Homo sapiens: one gene and its partner. The protein of the gene in region 1 interacts with the protein of each later gene in a biochemical or structural test. Each region holds a gene or a part of one and is shown in the gene's direction. Other genes may lie near its edges.

Region 1 (10,983 bases):
GACCACTAACACAGCTGCATTACATTGTCTACTCAGTGTTGCTGACTATATATAATGTGTATAGTTCAGTGACATTGCCAAAAGATGTCCTGAAGAATCTCAGGTAACTGGCAATAGGTTGGTTTTTCAGTCTGTTTACTTCCAGGAATGGATTCTTTAACAAATTATCCATGTGAGATAGAACTCATTGTGAATGATAAAGATATTTCTAAGGTAAACCTATGGTTAAGAAATAATATTTAACTCCAAATACGAAAGGATGCTTGACTAAGGCATAATTTATGTACACAGTAGCTTTTGTTCCTCAAGCAATGAAGTATACGTGAATTCTGCACCTAGCCGTAATTAGCTTTAAAAAGCCAATTACGGCTGGGTGCAGTGGCTCACACCTGTAATCCCAGCACTTTGAGAAGCTGAAGTGGGAAGATTGCCTGAACCCAGGAATTCAGTACCTATCTGTGCAACATAGTGAGACCCTGTCTCTAAAACAATTTTTTTTAATTAACTGGGCATGGTAGCACATGCCTGTGATTCCAGCTACTTGGAAGGCTGAGGTGGGTGGATCACTTGAGCCCAGGAGGTCAAGGCTGCAGTGAGCTGTGATCACTCCACTGCACTCCAGTCTGGGTGACAGAGTGAGACCGTGTCACCAAAAAAAAAAAAAAAAATTTTTTTTTTTTTAAAGAGAAGCCATATACAGTAAAATTTACCAGTTACCATAGTACTTGTAAACTTTTTGCTTTTTTCATTTAACATTTTGCCAGAGATGGAACTTCTAATCATCTTTAGAACTACCTACAGGAAACACTGAGTATTTTGAATATTTAGTTTTCCATGGTAACTTTTGACCTTGTTTTTGCTCTGTTTCACTTAGGACAAGATGACCTCATCCAGCATCAAGATATGAGGATCTTGGAGCTAACGCCAGAACCAGACCGGCCTCGAATTCTGCCTCCTGACCAACGACCTCCCGAGCCTCCTGAACCACCACCAGTCACTGAGGAAGATCTAGATTATCGGACAGAAAACCAGCATGTACCCACCACCAGTTCTTCATTAACTGACCCTCATGCCGGAGTGAAGGCAGCCCTGTTACAGCTGCTTGCTCAGCATCAGCCCCAGGATGACCCCAAAAGAGAAGGTGGGATTGATTATCAAGCAGGAGACACTTACGTGTCCACTTCAGACTACAAGGACAACTTTGGATCCTCTTCTTTCTCTTCTGCTCCTTATGTTAGCAATGATGGTCTAGGAAGCAGTTCTGCTCCACCACTAGAACGACGTAGTTTCATTGGAAATTCAGATATTCAGTCTTTGGATAACTACAGTACTGCTTCATCTCATTCTGGTGGTCCACCTCAGCCTTCTGCCTTTTCTGAGTCATTTCCCAGTTCAGTAGCTGGATATGGAGACATTTACCTCAATGCTGGTCCCATGTTGTTTAGTGGAGACAAGGACCATAGATTTGAATATAGCCATGGTCCTATTGCAGTCCTGGCAAACAGCAGTGACCCTTCCACGGGGCCAGAGAGTACTCATCCTTTGCCAGCAAAGATGCACAACTATAACTATGGTGGTAACTTACAGGAAAATCCGAGTGGCCCCAGCCTCATGCATGGACAGACCTGGACTTCTCCTGCCCAAGGACCTGGATATTCACAAGGATACAGGGGACATATTAGCACATCAACTGGCAGAGGCAGAGGCAGAGGGTTACCATACTGAGTATCTGTTTTTCCTCAGGCACATCATTTTTATCTGGAAAGACTTTTCTAGCTGCAATTTAAGGCAGCAATCCAAGAGACTTGAATAATAATAATTCAACAACAGCTTTATTTTTATGTGGAGAAGGGTCTTGCATACAATAGTTTAAAAAAGACAAAAAAAACCTTTGCTTAAATTCATGCTGTTCTAAAAACTAGATCGATTGTACATCTTCACAAATTCTAGTTAACAATTTTATTTTGTATTCTTGCAGTTTTAAGTGGATGCTAATTTTAGGGGCATAAGCCTTTTATGGCCCTCTTGCAGATCTTCTGAACTATGCACATTTGTGCTTTTTTTGTAAGTTTGGACCAACTTTTATGTAACAAACAGCCCCTCCCCACCTCCAGTTTTACAACAATCAGAAAGGGCACTGATTTATTTGGTATTTTTCTTTTTACAAAGCTACCTTTAGTCAAAGGTCACTGTCAGTCTTTGCACCTGCTTTCAGTGTTATTGTGAAAGGTGTACTTTGTGCTCATTTCAGAAAATAAAACACAACCTTTCTCTTGATGCAACAGTTTTATAAAAAAAAAAATGGTCAACGTTATTTTTGTTTTGTTTTGCAGATTATCAAAGCCTAGCAAAATGCATTTAAATGAAATAGTGGGTTTTATATGAAAACTATGGGTGGGGTGGGGAGGGAAAGTAAGTGCCTTAACAGGTAAGCTTAAGGTCTGAAAAAAATAGTTAACTTTTACCCCCATTTGTCTTTTAAAGGGAATCAATGCATTAAAAAGGCAAGAAACTCTGAAGTTTCAGGGGCTGCCTGTTCAGTTCCTGTTAGGTCCATTCCCTCTGCTTGTCACACTTTCTCCTTTTCTGCCTGTCTTTGGGCTGTGTTGCCTTTCACTACCACCTTCTCTTGATAGGGGAGTGAGAGCAAAGAAAGGGAGTAGAACTGCAATCAGTACATATTGTTTGAGAAGTTCTACAAAGTTTTGTCATTTAAATGGTTGAAAGTAATAGCTCCAGGAGAATTTTAGAGTACCATTTTCTTTCAGGCTGCCATATTATCCCTGTTTCCATTTGCCATGGATAATTGGAGGGTCATGGTATAGAAGCAAGAGTTAATAACAGAACTTGCCTAAATGTGTTAAAGTTCATGGGGGAGGGGTGGCAAATACCGTATTTTAAGTTATGCAATTGCCCTTTTAAGAAAGTCAATTCTATTCACTTGTTAACTAGAAACATTGCTTAGATTGAATTTATTGAAGCAAAAAGAAAAGGCAATGAGAGAGAACTTTTATCTTCCTTCCTGTCACATTCTGTAAAGTTGATTATGACTTCTGCCAGACTTAGAGCAACAACTTTAGTTCATTTTAACATTTTTTTTTAATGAAGAGCATCAAAGAATGGAGTAGTCCTTATTTAAACTGTAATGGTGTCAAGTCTCACTGTGTGCACACTCTCACACATACACACACAATTATACTAATTCTAGAAAGGAACCAAAGGTAAATAACCAGTGTTTCCATTATCACTAAATGGAAAAATTGACTGGAAGTTAGAGTTGTGCCAATTAATCATTTTGTTCATCAACTGTTCTGGTAACTTATTTTTTTTTATTGGAATCTTAAATTGGAACAACTGTTACAGAATGTATATTGCTCCAGTTCTAAAGCCAGTTAACCCTGTGCCCTCTAACTTATGAACCTTCATTTCAAAACAGTATGTGGGAAGTCCTGTAGTTTGATAAGAGTAAAATTATTTTAAAGAGGATAATTTACCATTTTACTACTATAAAATAAGTTGATATCAGTTGACCATTTTATTTTTTGATGGACTCTTTTTGTTGGGAGAAAGAAATGAATGGAAGAAAAAAATATGTTGCTTTTATTTGAATATTGATTACTAACAACTTATAAACTACATTGCAGGAAATGAAGAAATATTTTGAAATTAGCAAAATAGCAACAGTATTCAAGTATCTGAAATTTTAATATGGTGAGTCTTAGAGCTTTAGACTTTCCTATAAGTGACAGTATCTAAGTTATTCTTAATAGTCACACTTGATAATTCTGCTGACCATAAGCAGCTAACCTACAGTTGAAGATATTTATGTGACATGAATAGCCTGTGTTTTAAAAATTAAATATTTTATATAAAATTGAACTGTGTTTGGATAGTTTTTCTAATCAAACATTTCAGTTATATATTTATGTTGGGAGAGTGGCTGGGAGGACAGGGAAATTGTTGCTTTGACATTGAAAATTTGAACTAGAACTTCTAATATTATCCTTACACAGCACTACTGTGAGACATACTAGTCTTTTATATGTCACTTAGAAGAAAAAATGTTGCCAATTAAGCCACAATACAATGCTAAGACGTCATCAATTGTAAGCTGCATCCCAGATTCAGACATATTATATGAAAATATGTCTTATAATTGATGAAATATGATAGTAAAAAATTTTAATGCTTCCCTTCATAGCATTTAATATTTTAATTCAGTGAATTTGGATTAATAGAACAAAGTTGGGAAATCACTAGTTCTGTAGGTTATAACAGCAGTCATCGCTGAAAATTTGAGTGAAATCTAAAGAACACAAAATATTGCTTAAATTTTTTGGAAAAAAGCAGGTAAGTCAGACTGCAAGTTAAGAAGACAAAAATATAAAAGATTTGACCTGCCAAAAGAAGAAAGTATTTATCTTCTCCCACGTGAAATTCCCTTTTGTATTTACTGACACAGCAGGTTTTTCTGCATGCAACTCAGTATGTTTCCTACGTCTTCATTATTTGTTGGAGAGTTGCAAGTCATTTGTGAAACCTTAAAATGCCAATTTTAAGGAGTTGTCATTTGTGGAATGTGAAATAAGGTAATAATTCTAGCTGTGATTCAGAGCTTTATTCTGTCAGCAAATACATAGTCAGTGCCTACAACATGCCAGGTAGTAATCTAGTCCTTGGGGTACATCAATAACCGTCAACAGTGTTAAATCATACTTTCAGTGTGCTGACAGTGAGCAAGATTTTTTTAAATGTCTGGAGAAGTTAGTGGTATTTGCTACCCTCAGCTGTATCTAAATTGCACTTAAGTGAATGTAGGGCATGAAAATTTGAGTATCTTTTTGAAATTTTAAATTGAAATTTGGATAGAGATGGTTATGGAGAGAAATCAAACAACTGGAATAGCTGTTTGATATCACTTAAAAGTGATAAAATTTTAAGTTGAATCTGGTCAGTTTGCAATGGCCTATTTGTAAGAAATATCAAGACTTCTTGAGAAAAATGAAAAGTGAATACATAAATGCTTAAAATCTGGTACTTCTGAGTTAAGGTTTTGCTCTTTGAGCTTAATCCAATTTGGGATGATTTTTCATCCTAGGGCTTTTTGTTTTCCTTTTTTATTTTTATTTTTTCTTTTTTTAGGGGAAGGGGACTTGCTTTCTTTTCCAAAAAGGTGAATCCTTCTTGTAGGACATAGGTAAAAAAAACAAAGCTGAAATATATGTTTTGAATATAGATAGCTAATTCCCTGGGATATAATATCCTTTCAATTTTTTTTTTTTTTTTGGCCCAGTCTGCCTTTTGATGTTTTAAAAGTCTGAACGAGATGTCCCAGTAACCTAAAATTATCCAGTCGGTCTTCTTACTTTACAACTAAGAAAAATAAGGCTTAGAAAGAGGGATTGCCAGAAACTTTGGCAGCTGGATTGCCTGTGCTTGTTCCTCTAAGCCATACCTAAATTCTGCAGTAAATACTTAACTTTTTAATAGGGAAATTGCTTCAAGATAACTTGACCAGTGATACGGTAAAATAATTAGACTATTGGACTAATGGTTTAACACAAGTGGCTTTAAAAAGTCTGCTTAAAAAACAATTTTTATTTAGAAAAAATAGAAAAATAAAAACATCTTCAAAATTTAGGAGCCTGAAGGGGCTGTTTGTTTCATATATGGATAATCTTTGAAAAGGCAAGTCCTGTATGTATTTTTCATTTGTTGAAAGAAGATTGGTTATCAGTAGGCTTGCAAACATAATTTGCTTTTAAGTTCTTTCAAGGTTTTATGCAATAAAACCTATTGATTTGGAACTTTAAAAAAAAAAACAACAAAAAAATACTTTCAGGGTTTTGTAATTTCAAGTGGTTTTTTAAGGGGAGCAATAGTTTGCCATTTACCAAAGGCTTCTCCAGATAATTTCTTAAATGTTTCTACTTAAAAATAAAAGCTATTAATAATAAGCTGTCATGGGATCCATTTGAAGACAGGGAAAATAGAAAATTTTTATTGTAAAGGGAAGAACTTATCCTTTTAATTTTATGGACTAACAGAGTCTGCAGGTCTTAACTCATTTCAGCCTGTCAAATGTGCAATTAAAAATGAATTTTCTAATTGTATTCAAATGAGGCTCTATAGTGAATACAGAATCACTCTTCTAAGTTTTTTCCCAGTTAATTTGTTTAAAAGTGTTGTACTCTCTTGCAAGAACGTTTAAAAGTTAAGTCTTGTAACTGTTAACATCTAATGTATTAATATAAGCCATTTGTTTTTTACCATTTTTTTAAGGCCGTATTCAATAGTCTGTAAATAAATTGCCGTAACACTCCCAGGCCATTTTTCAGCCTTGTTTGCTTTTTGCTTCTATCCAGAACAGACTTTTTGAAGTAATCTTATCTGATAAAGATGACCACTTGTAATCCACTGTGCCGTTTTTTTGACAAAGGTTAAGATGTGGAATCTTTTTTTTTCTTTTTATAATTAGTACATATTTGGAAATAGGAACACAGAGAAGAACACCCCCAGATAACCACATAATATTTTGCCTTTGATGGATGTATTTGAATGCATATCTTGTTTTTTTTTTTCTTAAAACAATGGGATCATACTGCCCATAGCTTTGTAATTTGAATTTTTTCATTTAATAATATGTTGTGAACATCTCTTGGTATCAGTCAGTTAAATTCTATCCTCTTTCCCCCAGTCTGGAATGCAGTGTCGACATCATGGCTCACTGCAGCCTTGAACTCCTAGGCTCGAGTGATCCTCCTGCCTCAGCCTTCCAAGTAGCTGGGACTACAAGTATGCACCACCATGCCTGGCTAATTTTTTAAATTTTTTGTAGAGATGGAGTCTCCCTGTGTTGTCCGGGCTGGTCTTGAACTCCTGACCTCAAGCAATCCTCCTACCTTGGCTTCCCAAAATGCTGGGATTAAAGACATGAGCCACTGCGCCCAGCCCACCCTCTTTTTAATGGTTGTAAATTATTGCTTTATAGAGGAACCATACTTTCACAATTTCTCATTGCTGGACACAATATTTTGGACTTTTCTGTTACAAATAATGTGATGAAAATCCACAAAAATACATACATACACACAAACATAAATCAATTTCCTTGGAGTTGCTGGTATAAAGAATGCACTTTTAAAATGTTTGCTAGATCCAAATCGCTCTAGGGAAAAGTTTACCAGTTTCCCATTCCTGTTCCTTAACCTTTTCATTTAGCCATGTTGGGTACTTAAAAGTTAGAGATCTTTGTTAGTTAGACAGGTGATAAATCATCTTGTTTTAATTCATGTTTCTTGGATTACTAGTGAAGTCCAACACTTCATATGTTAGCCAGGTCTTTTATTAACTATTCAGATGTTTGAAAACTTTAACAGCTGATCCTAATATTATGTATATATATAGTATAATGCATACATGTATACATATATAGTATGTATATGTACATATCTATATTGTATATATGTATGTATATATTGTAAATATGTATATTATGTATGTATATTGTATATATTTGTTATATATATTTGTTATGGGAAAATTTTAATATGTAGTTAAGTCTGTTAATCTTTTCCTTGTTTCTCTTTAGAAAAGCATTTAGAAAAGCTTTCCTACTCCAAAGTTATTTAAACATTTACACATATTTTAGTATACATTTAATTCTAAACCATTCTATATTTTATAGATGTTTGTTTTGAGATATGGATCCAACTTTACACTTTTTTTTTAATCTTTATCTTCTGTTTACAAGTCCTACACTTGTATCATTATAAACTAGGCATCTGACATTATGTGTGTGTGTTTTAAAAATAATTTTATTTTCAATTCCTAGAAAATGTGTACCACATAAAATTTGTCAGGCAGAACTTTAATTTAATTGTCCCCTTTTCAGAGTTTTCTATTCCTGTTTATTTTTCCATGTGACTTTCAGAATCATTTAGATTATTTTCTCAAGTATTCTGTTAGGATTTTGGTTGGAAACATATTAAATGTTTTTTACTTAGGGGATCTTTCCATTGAGAGCTTAGTAGAATTGTTTTTTTACATGTTCTCCATTAAGAGTTCGAACTGTTTTTTTTTTTTTTTTGAGACAAGAGTTTTACTCTGCCGCCCAGGCTGGAATGTGGTGGTGTAATCTCAGCTCATTGCAGCCTCTGCCTCCCAGGTTCAAGATTCTCCTTTCTCAGCCTCCCAAGTGGCTGGGATACAGGCCCCTGCCACCACACATGACTAATTTTTGTATTTTTAGTAGAGACGGGGCTTTATCATGTTGGCCAGGCTGGTAAGGGTTCCAAAATTTTCTTCATGTTCTTTTTTTAAGTTTCCAAAAATATTTTTGTTGCTTTTAGATATGGACTCCTCGTATTATAATATTTTTAACTAGTCACCACTTATATTGTAAAGCTGATTCTTAATTGTTGTTGTTAAACTGGCCACATAACTTTTATTATCATTTTTAATAGTTTTCAGTGAATAAGTATAATGGCATTCTTGTTTCTGATTTTACTGATGTCTGATTTTTAGTGTTTCAGTCGTGTAATTTATAGGTTAAAAATAGAATATTATGTTTAAGAAGAATCTTTTTTCATGAAGCCTGCTTATTAGGATCAGCTGTTAAAGGTTTTTTTCAAATGACATTATATGCAATTGCTCTTTTGACCTTTTGATGACAGAATAGAATGTAATAACCATTAATTTAAAATGCTGTTATATTCTAATTCCTAGCCATGTATTTAGGACTTTGTATCTATGTTTTGTATCTGTGTTAATTTTGATTAACAGGTTATGACAGATTGGCAGAATAAGCTGGAAAACTAATGTTTTATTTAGAATATAGATCCTGCTGGGTGCCGTGGCTCACGTCTCTAAACCCAACACTTGGGAGACTGAGGCGGGTGGATCGTTTGAGCTCAGGAGTTCAAGACCAGCCTGGGCAACATAGTGAAACCTCGTTACCACCAAAAATACAAAAAACTTAGCTGGGCATGGTGGCGCATGCCTATAATCCCAGCTACTCGGGAGACTCAAGCAAGAGAATTACTTGAACCTGGGAGGCAGAGGTTGCAGTGAGCTGAGATCATGCCACTGCACTCCAGCCTGGGTGACAGAGCAAGACTGTCTCAAAAATAATAATAGTAAAAAAAGCGATGTTTTAGTTATCTTAACTATTGTAATTATTTCTAAAATGTTATCCAGCAAACATACTTGGGGTAGAATGTTAGACATTTATTTTAAGATGAGGAATAGACAAGGATGTCCATTATTAGTTACTGTTCAGGTTGTCAGCATTTTTGAGGGATGGAGGAAGGTAGAGAAGGGTTTGAAAAGGCATAATTTTATTTATTTATTTATTTATTTATTTATTTATTTATTTGTTTGTTTGTTTGTTTGTTTGAGACAGGGTTTTGCTCTGTCACCCAGGCTGGAGTGCAGTGGTGTGATCATAGCTCACTGCAGCCTTGAAATCTTGGGCTCAAGTCATTCTACCGCCTCAGCCTCCCAAACAGCCGGGACTTACAGGCACATGTCACTATGCCCGGCTAATTTTTAATTTTATTCTTAGAGACAGAGTCTTGCTATATTGCCCAGGCTGGTCTCAAACTCCTGGCTTCAAGCGATCCTCCCAAAGTGGGAGGCCACAGTGGGAAGATTACAGGTGTGAGCAACTGTACCCAAACAGAAAAAATTATTAATGGCAGACTTAAGTGATTGTCTATGTAAAGCACACAAGATAAACTATTATTAGCATTGATAGATTTGTGTGAATTGCTAGTAACTTTTACAGTAGTCTCCCCTTATCTGTGGGTATGTGATCCAAGACTCACCACTTAGTGCCTGAAACTGCAGATAGTACCGAACCCTGCATAATACTGTTTTTACAATCTGATAACCGAGGCAGCTACAAGTGACTAATGGGCAGGTAGCATCTACAGCAGGTAGAGCCAGGATGGTGTGAGATTTTATTATGCTACTCAGAACTGCTCACAAATTAAAACTCATTAATTGTTTCTGGAATTTTCCATTTAATATTTTCAGACTGCAGTTGACCTCTGATAACTGGGGTAAGCAAAACTATGGATAAAGTGGAACTACTGTGTGTAGAAGAAGAGGCCATGAATAGCTAAGGTAATTTCAAAGAACAAGATTTTGGATTTGTTCTACCAGATATAAAGATTCCTGGGACAAATGATTATCTACAAGAAGAAATAGGAAGAGGCAAATTTTGAAAAAAAAATAACACATTTTCATAGATCTGAATGGGAAAACTTTAAAATACTGAGAAAGAACAAATACACTTTGACTAGCAACTCCACTTCTGGACATATATATATTTAGCTTATTTCTGTCTGTATAATTTTATATATAATTATAAAGTGAAAAAAGGTAAATATCTTAAATATTCATTTGTAGGAGAACAGTTAAATAATATGGATAAAAGTATAGAATGACTCCATTGTATTAAATAAGTATTTCTATATAGTGCATAGAGTATTTGAAAACTGAAACTGATTGTGGGTTATAATAGAGCAGATTGTTTTAAAAAGAGACTTGTGAGCCAAGACTAAATCCTGGTTTTACTATTTATTAATCTGTATAGCTATAGCCAAGCTATTAAAACTCCCTTATTTCTCAGTTTTTTCGTTCATGAAGTGGGTACAGTACCTAAAGGTTTATGTTGAGGATTAAGTAACTGAATAGTGCCTTGTACATACTTCAGGGCTCCCTGAATGTTTGCTGTTGTGACTGAGAGAAGAACTGGGTGGGAGTGGGGAAGGGGGAATTTTGCTGCTGCTTTGATGCTTATTTTTTATCTTGATTAAGAAAAATGTATTTGTAATAAAATAAATTTTTAAGTAGGAATTTATGGGTTCCAGTCAACAAAGCAACAATATTCACTCTTGAGACTTTCCTTCCGGTTTTAAACTACTTTCTGTCTAGTTCCACCTTAAATATCTGATAGAAAAAGATTAATGAAGAACT
Region 2 (11,158 bases), on another chromosome or scaffold:
GAAAATTACAACATTAATGACACTACTAACAGTACACTAATGAAGTTTTAAAATTTCGTTGGGGCCAGCCACTGTGGCTCATACCCATAATCCTAGCACTTTGGGAGGCTAGGCGGGAGGATCGCTTGAGGCCAGGAGTTCGATGCTGCAGTGAACTAGGATCATGCCACTGCACTTATAGCCTGGGTGACAGAACAAGACTCTGACTCTAAAATAAGTAAGTAAGTAAATAAATAAACAAATAAATAATTCTTTTCAGTTATTTTTGTCCTTAGAATATATCTCACTAAGCATGTAACAATATCAGAAATTACTTGGAAGTAAGTTTCTGTGTGATTTTGTTGCCCATTTGGTTTGAGTTTTAGGATTTGCTTTTTTATTTTTAGTTAAGTGTATGAGTATGTTAAATATTTACATGATTCAAACATCAAAGTTATAAAAGTACTCTGCAGGGAGTCAAGCTGAAAGAGCACCTAATGGCCACATTGGAATAATTTGAGCAACAAAATAAATAATGATAGTATTGGATTATAACCCAAAGAATAAAATACTCATGTCTGTACTAAAGTAAATAAACAAATGGGAGAGAAGAAACAAATATTAACAAAATGATTCCAAATAATAAATGTTGAAGCAGTGAAGGAAATAGAAAGTCACCATTAGAACACCACAGTTGTAATCGTCTCAGGTGAATGCTAAAATTAGTAGATGAAACTTGAAGGAGAAATAGACATTTGTATAGTATTTTGCATTGTAAAATATTTCCCCCAAAATATTTACTTACTAGTGGGTGGTTTTAACATATGTCCACAATTTCTTTGATATCTCTGCCTCCAGAAAGTAGAGCTTAATTCCTTTACCCTTGAGTGTGGGCTGGACCTCGTGACTTGCATCTAAGGAATAGAAGATAGGAAGGGAAAAATAATAATTTACAGTGAGAAACCTGGTAGACTCCATCTTAACCAAGAGCTCATGGTTAACAGCAGTAAGTTGTTCTGATATCACCTGCACCCAAATATGATGTGTAGTTAATAGTGGTTATACCAAAGTTAATTTCTTTTTTTGGATAAATGAACCATGGTTATGGAAGATGTTTACATTGGGGAAGCTAAGTGAAGGGTATAGACAAAACTCATCTATCTTTACAGCTCTTCTGTAAACGTACAATTAGTTTAAAATAAAAGCTTTCATAAAAAGGCAAAGCTGTATAAAAAGATATATACATAGAGAAGTCTTGTTTCCATTCCTGTCTTTTCCATCCTGTTTTTCCCCATTCCTTATTGGTAAATATTTTTTGAATTACTTTAAAAAAATAGAGATGTCTGGCTGGGCGCGGTGGCTCACACCTGTAATTCCAGCACTTTGGGAGGCCGAGGCAGGCGGATCACGAGGTCAGGAGCTCCAGACCATCCCGGCTAACACGGCGAAACCCCATCTCTACTAAAAATACAAAAAAATTAGCCAGGCGTGGTGGCGGGCGCCTGTAGTCCCAGCTACTCGGGAGGCTGAGGCAGGAGAATGGCGTAAACCCAGGAGGTGGAGCTTGCAGTGAGCCGAGATCATGCCACTGGCACTCCAGCCTGGGCAACAGAGCAAGACTCCGTCTCAAAAAAAAAAAAAAAAAGAGATGTCTGTTTTTTCCCCTCCTTTCTTACATAGATGCTAACATACTGTGTACACTATCCTATACCTTGCTGATCTGGAAATTTCTCCATCCAGTACTTAACGATGTTTCTCATTCTTTTTAATAGCTGTGGGGTATGCTATTGTGTGCATGTGTCATATTTTACTCAGCCAGTCCCCTGATGATGGGCGTTTGGGTTGTTCATAGTTTTGCCATTATAAATAACACTACAGTGAATAATCTTGTGCACATGTTGTTTCATAGTTGTGACATTTCATAGTTAGGACAATATTTTCAGAGTCGATTCCCAGCAGTGGGAATCCTGGGTCAAAGAGCAAATGCATGTGTAATTTTGTTGGATATCGTCAACTTCTCTGTGACAGTTGGACCATTTTGTACTCCCACCAGAAGCTTATAAGATCACCTGCTTCTCTATAGCTTTGCCAACAGAGCAAATTGTCAAACTTTGGGATTTTTGCCAATCCAGTAGGTGAGAATTGTATCTCAGTGTGATGTCTGATTATGAACAGGTCATATTTTCTGAGGTTTTAATTAACTGGTCTCCCCCGCCCTTTGAACAGTGCCCAATTTAATCAGTCACACACAAAAATGTAAATTATTAGTTCAAGCTTTTCTCCAGGTACTTAATTCTTCCTCTTGGAGGGAAGATCAGATTTCCTTCAGAGCTACCAGGTGCAAGGAGGAGAATATTCAGCCCCACCATGTCACCTTCCCCACCAGAAATGAGGCAGATACACAGAAAAGGTTAGGTTTCCAGATGAACTGGTGGGAGCCCTGGCCCAGAACCTGGCCACAGAGCTGCTGTTTTCTTGCTAACCAGACTAACCTGGCTCCAGCCAGCTCTTTCAGAACCCTTTTGATACCTTATTTGAAAGTATCTGCTGTCTCTGATCCAGGTTACAAATGACTTATTTCTAACAGTGGTCTCTAGATGAGATCCTTCGTTGTTGTTGTTTTTTTCTTTCTTTCTTTCTCTCAGCATGGAGCTTTTGGAGAGTGTCTTTATTCTGAGTGAAAGAAAAGGAAGAGGATGAAAAAGCAAGAACAGTTTAAAGGAGCTCCTTCTCTCATGGACCACTTCCATCCACCCACTCCCCAAATCACAAGATGCACATTTGGTTTACATCAGTGAATTCAGTGATTTGTGCAGATGTGAATTAACCCAATCCCATGACTTGTCTAAGTGAAAGTGCCTACATGGAATAAACTGAAAAGGGGTGCTGGATGGAAGAGATGGTTAGTTTTAGAACATAAATCTTTGTCAAGATTAAGACAGGCCCAGGTTTTGCTGAAGAATGGAATCTGGACCAGCGTTAGAGGACCTGTATGTCTAGTGAAGAAAAACCAGAAGAAAGTGAGATATACTTCGTTTCTTCCAAAACTTTGTCAAATAAGGTTAACCCTTTAATCTCAAGAGAGAGGGAGGAAATAGTCTTATTTTTAAACTACCATGAAATTTGAGATTTATTAATATTAGTACTGGGGTCATCTTACAGTATTGTGTTAAATTGGCTCTGGAGTTAGCCCGGGCTTGTAACTGGCAATTGACAGTGTGGTTTCTATAGGAAATAGTGATCCCAAACCAGGTACAATCTATGATTCTAGATTGCTTATAGTATGGAGTATTCCTTTCCAACTTTGTTTTTCTCTTTCTCATAGGATTCTAACATTTTCAGAGAACCTTTTGGAAAGAACAAGCCTACTTCAATAAATGAAGGAGAATAAAGAAAATTCAAGCCCTTCAGTAACTTCAGCAAACCTGGACCACACAAAGCCATGTTGGTACTGGGATAAGAAAGACTTGGCTCATACACCCTCACAACTTGAAGGACTTGATCCAGCCACCGAGGCCCGGTACCGCCGAGAGGGCGCTCGGTTCATCTTTGATGTGGGCACACGTTTGGGGCTGTATCCTGACTCTCCTTGGAATCTGTTACAGATAGGCTCCCCACTCACCACCAAGAAATAATTAGATTCTGTAGACAAAATATATAGTAATTTCTCTGTACCAGAGCAGTTCTTAAATATCTGTTTGAATGTTGTTTCTGGTGGGGGTTTTTCTCTTTCTGATTTGTCATTTTAAAGGTGTAGACTTAGCCACTGAGGAGGTGGCCAGCCAGGAGGATATGAGGCACCCATTAGGATCACAGTTGAGGCTGGGCACAGTGGCTCATGCCTGTAATCCCAGCACTTTGGGAGGCCTAGACAGGAGCATCCCTTGAAATCTGGAGTTCGAGACCAACCTGGGCTGCAGTGAGCCAAGATCACACCACTGCACTCTAGCCTGGGTGACAGAGATGCTGTCTCAAAAAAAAAAAGATCATAGTTGAAGTGTTTCTAAAGGGTGTTAAAAGTATAAAACTTCAGCTTGCTAATTCTTGTACCAGAATTCTGACACCCTGAGATTCCCATCTCATTACTTTGCCACTAATATTGTTTACTTTACCATTGATTTTGTTGTTGTTGTTTGTCTTTTTGTTTTTCTACATTTAACTAAGAGTATAACCTGTAAAAGTTATTGGTTAGAGTCCTTAACCAGAACAACAGACACTATGATACCCTGGCAACTGGAATAATTTATTTTCATCGCTTCTATATGTTTCATTCCTTCAAGCAATTCCCAAGATATGTAAGTGTTTGAATTTTATTGTAATTCTCTGTCATATGTTATTATTTCCACACAGTTTGGTGGACTAATTATAAGCTCTATTTTTCTCATATTTTCCAGAAAGTATTTATTTTTATATGGTATATACTGCATATAAACAAAATCAAGTTTGAACTTTTTTTATTCCAATTAGCCATGTTCAAATCTTTTCACTTAGGCCAATATGGACCATAGTCATATTGCGCTTTGTATGAAAGTTTACTCCCGTGGTACCTTTCCCAGCATAAATTTGGGCTTATAATTGAGACTCAACAAAGACCAAGAAAGCAAAATGGAACAGAAGTTGTCTATGCCATATCACTCATTCTTCGGTTACTCCTCAAGACGTGCATTGTGTCTTACTCTCTGTGGGAGATAGAGTAGCTTTCAGTCCAGGATAAGTGGTATGACATGCACAGAACACGTGATGGAAAGTGAGGCCATCAGAAGATACTGATAAAAGAGTTGTGGCATTCAAGGAGGAGACAACTTACATCTTGGAGAGAGCAGGGAAAGTGCTAGGAAGAAGGTGCCAGCATTAAGGTAAGCCTTAAACGTACATAGGGCATAGCCATGCCGTGATGGGCTAGGTCAGTGGTCCAACAGAAGCTAGCATAAGCAGAGGCAGGGGGAACCATGTGACACATTGTCAGCCCAGCCAGGAGCTTGATTTGGCAGGAAGGAAATGATGAGACCCTGGGTGGATAGGTAGACTGGGTCAGACCACGATAAGCCTCGAATGCCAGACTTCAGAAATTTGGCTTCAGTGGGTGAACAATGCAGTAATTAAAAGGTTTCGTGAAAATGACAGACTTAACATTAAAGTCATTGTGTTGATTTGTTAGCTAAGATTTTAGTTAGATTTATATACATGCCTTCCTCACTGGTTGTGAAGTTCTTGAAGAAGGAGACCATGTTGGAATCAGTTTTGTACCCCCGGCAGAGTGTCTGACATCTAGTGTGATCAGGATTATGTGAGGAGAGTGGCATGTAGGAAGGATTGGAGTGGGCAAAGAGAAGCTGAAGACAGAGCAGTTCAGACCCCAGTGATATAGGGACTGAGCTAAGGTTGAGGCAACTGGAGGGACAGTTTCTTCATCCATTCAGGCTGCTATAACAATATGCCTTAGACCCAATAATTTACACACAACAGAAACTTAACTCTTCACAGTTGTAGAGACTGGGAGGTGTAAGATCAAGGTGCTGGCAGATTCTGTGTCTGGTAAGGGTTTGTTCCTCATAAAAGGGCTCCTTGCCGCATCCTCAAATGGTGGAAGGGAGGAACAAGCCCCTTGGGCCTCTTTTATAAGGGCAGTAATCCCATTCAGAATCATTTCCCAAAGGCCTCACTTCTTCATACCGCCACCTTGGGAATTAGGTCTCAAGCTATGAATTAGGACATAAACATTCAGACCATAGCAGAAAGAAAAGGAAGCATGGGCAGTGCTGAGATGGATTCCACAGGACTGTGCTAGAAGGAAAAGGAAGCATGGGCAGTGCTGCTGAGATGGATTCCGCGGGACTGTGTTTAGTTGTGCTCTTTCTTTTTCCACGGCAAAGCTTGCTGTTTAGGGAGTTAATTTCAGATTGGAATATGAGAAGAAAATTTATTTATGTGACTCTTTTCCTTTTTGGCATTTTCTTTGTTTACATGACTTTTTTTTTAAGAAAGTTAAATTTTAAATAATTTATGAAGCTAGAGTTTGGGGGATTTATATGTATAAAATTTCCTTCAAGCTTCTAGAGTATCGGAGTATTTGTGAATGATAAAAAGAAAGGTAGGGGAATGAGGAAGACCAGTTTATTACGAAGGCCAAAATTTATTGTATCTATTTCTGTGTGACCTTTGATAACAAAAATCAAGAACTTTTGTTTCCCTTTTAGGTGACAGGAGCCTGTTGCCTCTTTCTGGCTGGGAAAGTAGAAGAAACACCAAAAAAATGTAAAGATATCATCAAAACAGCTCGTAGTTTATTAAATGATGTACAATTTGGCCAGTTTGGAGATGACCCAAAGGTAAGAATGATAATAACTTCCTGCCTTCTGGTCTTGATTCCTTATGGTAGTATTGTACAGTTCCACATGTTGACAGTGCCTGTAGCCCTTGTGTCTGCCAGTCTCTTGAGTTCCTAAGAGGGCCTTCTGTAGAAGTTACTTGATGCTTTTGTAAGAAAGGAGGGAAGATCGTGTAGCCTACACTTACTCAGTGCTTCCTTATGTGCCCAGCAGTATTCTAAGTACTTTGGGGCAGTGGCACATTTCATGGATATGAGCAAAAATCCTCTTAATTGCCATTAGGACTCTGCTTCTTAAGTGCAGTGGTGATGGCAGGGTTACAACTCCAGCTAGCTTCTGGGTCAAACAAAAGTATGTATGCTGTATGTACACATACACATGCCTACATATGCCATGTGTCTTTTGCTTCTAAAGAATGTTGGAAGGTATCAACATTTGCAGCATTTTTATGCACCCAGAGCTTGATACTGGTCACACCAGCCATCCTATCTTTTCCATACAGCTCACGCCAGTGTCAGCAAGTGGTGCTCAAATAATTGTACATATTTTGTTGTGTTTTTAAAATACCACTTTTAGGGACCCATGGCAGTGTTCCTCCACTCCCATTCGCATCAAGTTCCCCTTGTTGCAACCTCAGTAACACCTGTTAATTATCCTTCATAACATTTATCACAGTTTGCAATTAAATAGATTTTCAAAAATACTTTAGGCCAAGCCGGGCAGATTGCTTGAGCCCAGGAATTCAAGACCAGCCTAGCCAACATAGCGAAACCCCATCTCTACTATATAAGAATAAACTGGCCAGGCGTGGTGGCTCACGCCTGTAATCCCAGCACTTTGGGAGGCTGAGGCGGGCGGATCACGAGGTCAGGAGATCGAGACCATCCTGGCTAACATGGTGAAACCCCGTCTCTACTAAAAATACAAAAAATTAACCGGGCGTGGTGGTGGGTGCCTGTAGTCCCAGCTACTCGGGAGGTTGAGGCAGGAGAATGGCATGAACCCGGGAGGCGGAGCTTGCAGTGAGCCGAGATGGCACCACTACCCTCCAGCCTGGGCGACGGAGCAAAACTCCATCTCAAAAAAAAATAAATAAACTAATATTACTTTAAAAAAAAAAAACCTTTATTATTTTTTGCTGGGCATGGTGGCACGCACCTGTAGTCCCATCTACTTGGGAGGCTGAGGCAGGAGAATTGCTTAAGCCTGGGAGGCAGAGGTTGCAGTGAGCCAAGATTGCGCTACTGCACTCCAGCCAGGACGAGAAAGCAAGACTCCACCTCAAGAAAAAAAAAAAATGCTTTTTTTTTTTTTAGAGCAGTTTTATGTTCACAGCAAAAATGAGTGGAAAGTACAGAGATTTCCCATATACCCCCCACCCAACACATGCACAGCTTCCCCCATTTTCAGCATCCCCCCGACCAAAGTGGTACATTTGCTATGACTGATGAGCCTGCATTGACACATCACCCAGAGTCCAAACTTTACATTAGGGTTCATTCTCAGTGTTGTACATTCTGTGGGTTTGGACATACGTATAGTAACATGTAGCCACCATTATAGTATCATGTAGTCTATTTTCATAGCCTTAAAAATTCTCTGTGCTCCACCTGTTTGTCTCCTTCTCCCCGCTAACCTCTGGCAACCACTGATATTTTTACTGTCTCTATAGTTTCACCATTTCCAGAATGTCATCGAATTGGAATCATATAGGATGTAGCTTTTTCAGATTGGTCTCTTTCACTTAGTGGTGTGCATTTAGATAGTAGTATCCATTAGATGATTTTTATCAAATTATCACACACATAACTCCCTCCCCTTCTCAGCTGTAAGATGCATGAAAGCAAAGACTATCTGTTTTGTCTAATGCCTCATTCAGTGGCAGGACAGAGTAGGCATTCAGCAAGTACTCGTGGAATAAATGTCAAACTAATGGTCTGAGGAAATTTCTAAATCACAGTTAAAGCTAAAGCGATGAAGTTCAGCCCCATTCATGGTGTTGTTTTTCCTAACTAGCTTGTATTGTCTCACAATAGTTATCTTTTTCTCTGCCAAGCATTATGTATGTATATACAAAATGTATAGTCATTCTCCTCATTGCTTTGAGGAGTTAACAAGGGCCCAGAACACTTTTATACATATTGTGGTTGTGATTAACACTAGTATTTTCTAAGTATTGCCAATGTGGGTAACTCTTTTGAACTTAATTATAAATCCATTAATCTGTTTATAAACATTTGAACCTATTAGGAACTCATATTAACTATAACCAAAAATGCAGTTTTATAGAAATAATTTCACCATCAGATAATGTTTTCAATGTGCATGGGTATTTGATTTTTACTGAGTAGTGGGGCCCTGTGTCCTAACGTGATAAGTCTGATTGTAGGAACATGCTGTGGTTCAGTCACACCCCCGTCACAGGGGCAGGTGAACCTTGTGGCTGGCAAGCTGTGCTTAAGGATAAGGCATCACACAGATCTGGGACCACAGCAGGGCATGGACTCGTGGCAGCTGCTGGTTTGTGCCATCCCAGGGTGCCTTGGAGAAGCCCCCTTTACTTTTAGCCTTTACCCACTGTACCATGAAGTCAGGAAACCAAGCCCCAGTCCAGGAACAGTGAAAGTAGAAGTTCTGAAGCTCCTGTGCCCCAGAAAATGGGAAAAGAGGGGTCACCATACCAATTAGGTCTGAATGGGGGAGGGGGCTTTGCAACCTGCCCCCTGCCTCTCTATCTCGCGCAGTCTTCCCTGGTCGGAGTCGGGGCCAAAGGAAAACACCTGGAGCTGGGAGCAGTGAAGACATTGGGGAAGATGTTTTCCTCTGCAGACAGGAGGGCAATTCTTTAGTGGAGGCAGTATAAGTATTTAGGAAAAATAAGATCATGAGTCCCATGGAACATTTTTTGCCTTAATTAGCTTTATTTTAATTGTGTGGCTTTTCTCTGTAATATTCGTTTCAGCCTTTGTGTTGGGCACTAGACATGAGGCACGAGGCAGAACAGACATGGTCTCTGCTCTCATGGACTCTGCAGTTGAGTGGCAGGATAAATTTTAATCAAATGAGTATATAACTATTTGATGATGAGTTGTGGTGTACGCTGTAAAAGGTCATTTAAGGTGCTGTGATAGCATTCCACCCAGGGACCCAGGCAAGTCCCCCGGATAAATAGGGGCTGAGGGAAGGCGTTCCTGAGGAATGATGTTTGCTCAAAGACCTATAATGACCCCATTAATTGAATATTTGGAAGACAGAGGGAGGGCAGGCCCTGGGCTATCCTGTAACAGTATGTGGGCTACAGCCTGCAAGCCAATTGGTACACTTGGTAAAAAGAATTGTTTCTAAATTTAGAGGAAGTGTTGAAGCTTCTGGGAAGCAGGTGGTGACAATGACATTCAAAGAAAAAAATTGTTTTGTTTTGTTTTTTGAGATGGAGTCTCACTCTTGTTACTCAGGCTGGAGTGCAGTGGCACAGTCTCAGCTCACTGCAGCCTCTGCCGCCCAGGCTCGAGCGATTCTCCTGCCTCAGCTTCCCAAGTAGGGGACTACAGGCGCCTGCCACCATGATTGGCTAATTTTTATATTTTTGGTAGAGGTGGGGTTTCAGCATGTTGGCCAGGCTGGTCTTGAACTCCTGACCTCAAGTGATCTGCCCGCCTCGGCCTCCCAAAGTGCTGGGATTACAGGCATGAGCCACCATGTCCAGCCCAGTTTTTTTTACACTGTGTGAAAGTTTCTAAGATTTTAAAAAACTTTCATGAGAAAATGCTTGGGAAACTAAGATTGAAAAACCTTAGTCTTGCCATGTAATTTGGAATAATAATTATAGAATCATCTCTGTATCCTATAAAATAATACCATGCTTCTAAATGAAAGCCAGTGACCTGTGGGTCTCTGCACCTGTTGATGAGATTTACAGTCCTCTACAACGCCCTGTCTTTGATGCCAAACAAGGAATTCTCTCAAATTGTCCTCCCCGCACACAGTGTCTTGGTTGTGGTTTATGTTGTCTTTAAGCAGTAGGTACAGTCGGCTGTACAGGGGCTGAGTTCAAGACATTAGTTAGAGAGTATCATCAAAGAGGACATTCCATTAACGATAGCAACAGTAAAATATCCAAGGTTAAACCTTGTGGAAACCTCGTTAGTGGGGTGGAAAGGACTTTAAAACAACTAAAGGACTGAAAAGATATTAATAAATTTTTGGAAGGAAACTTCAATATGGTTAAAAATCTCCATTCTCCCTAATTATTCTATAAATCCTCTGAGTTTCCAATGAGAATATTAATAGCATGTATGTTTTCTGTAATGATACTAAGTAAAATGGTTACTAAAATTTGAGTGAGGGGGACATGCAGAACCCAGAAACTGTTTGAAAAAGAGAAGTAATACTGGAGCTATTGTATCCCACCCAAATCCCTTTGATCCTGGTCCAGGAGTAGACAGGCAGATCAGTGAACAGAAAAGATAGTGTGTGTGTAGGCAGACATACACACGTAGTTTAGGAGGTGATTTAGGTAGCATTTTAAATAAAATTGGAAATGATCATTTATTCAGTAAGTGTTGTTGGGATGATTTATTTCAAATAAATGAAAGATTTAAACACAAAATTGATTTGCCCCCATTTGCACGTAATACACTATATGTGTACATGAGTATATATACACACACATACACACACACTGGTACAATTTATCTCTGAGTTTTCATGAGGCTGGCTATCATAAACTCTTTCTTGCTTAAAATGTTTTCAATGAAAATTCCTAAAAGATTGCATTTTTAAAATTTGAGGTCTTGAAAGAAATTACAATTTAGTCAAATTATCAATAACGTAAAGATCTGTTTTGTAAA

The links.
Region 2: the proteins of CDK13 (region 1) and CCNK are reported together in a solved structure, tested with the Homo sapiens proteins (one study listed by IntAct).

The regions. Positions count from the first base shown.
Region 1 is NC_000007.14:40,093,256-40,104,238, forward strand, and holds the end of CDK13 (cyclin-dependent kinase 13), read left to right. Parts: intron 1-874; coding exon 875-1,725; 3' UTR 1,726-6,325; downstream 6,326-10,983. UniProt on the Homo sapiens protein: Cyclin-dependent kinase which displays CTD kinase activity and is required for RNA splicing.
Region 2 is NC_000014.9:99,489,322-99,500,479, forward strand, and holds part of CCNK (cyclin-K), read left to right. Parts: intron 1-2,624; exon of another isoform or gene 2,625-2,999; intron 3,000-3,304; 5' UTR 3,305-3,356; coding exon 3,357-3,553; intron 3,554-4,192; coding exon 4,193-4,274; intron 4,275-6,176; coding exon 6,177-6,308; intron 6,309-10,868; exon of another isoform or gene 10,869-11,158. UniProt on the Homo sapiens protein: Regulatory subunit of cyclin-dependent kinases that mediates activation of target kinases.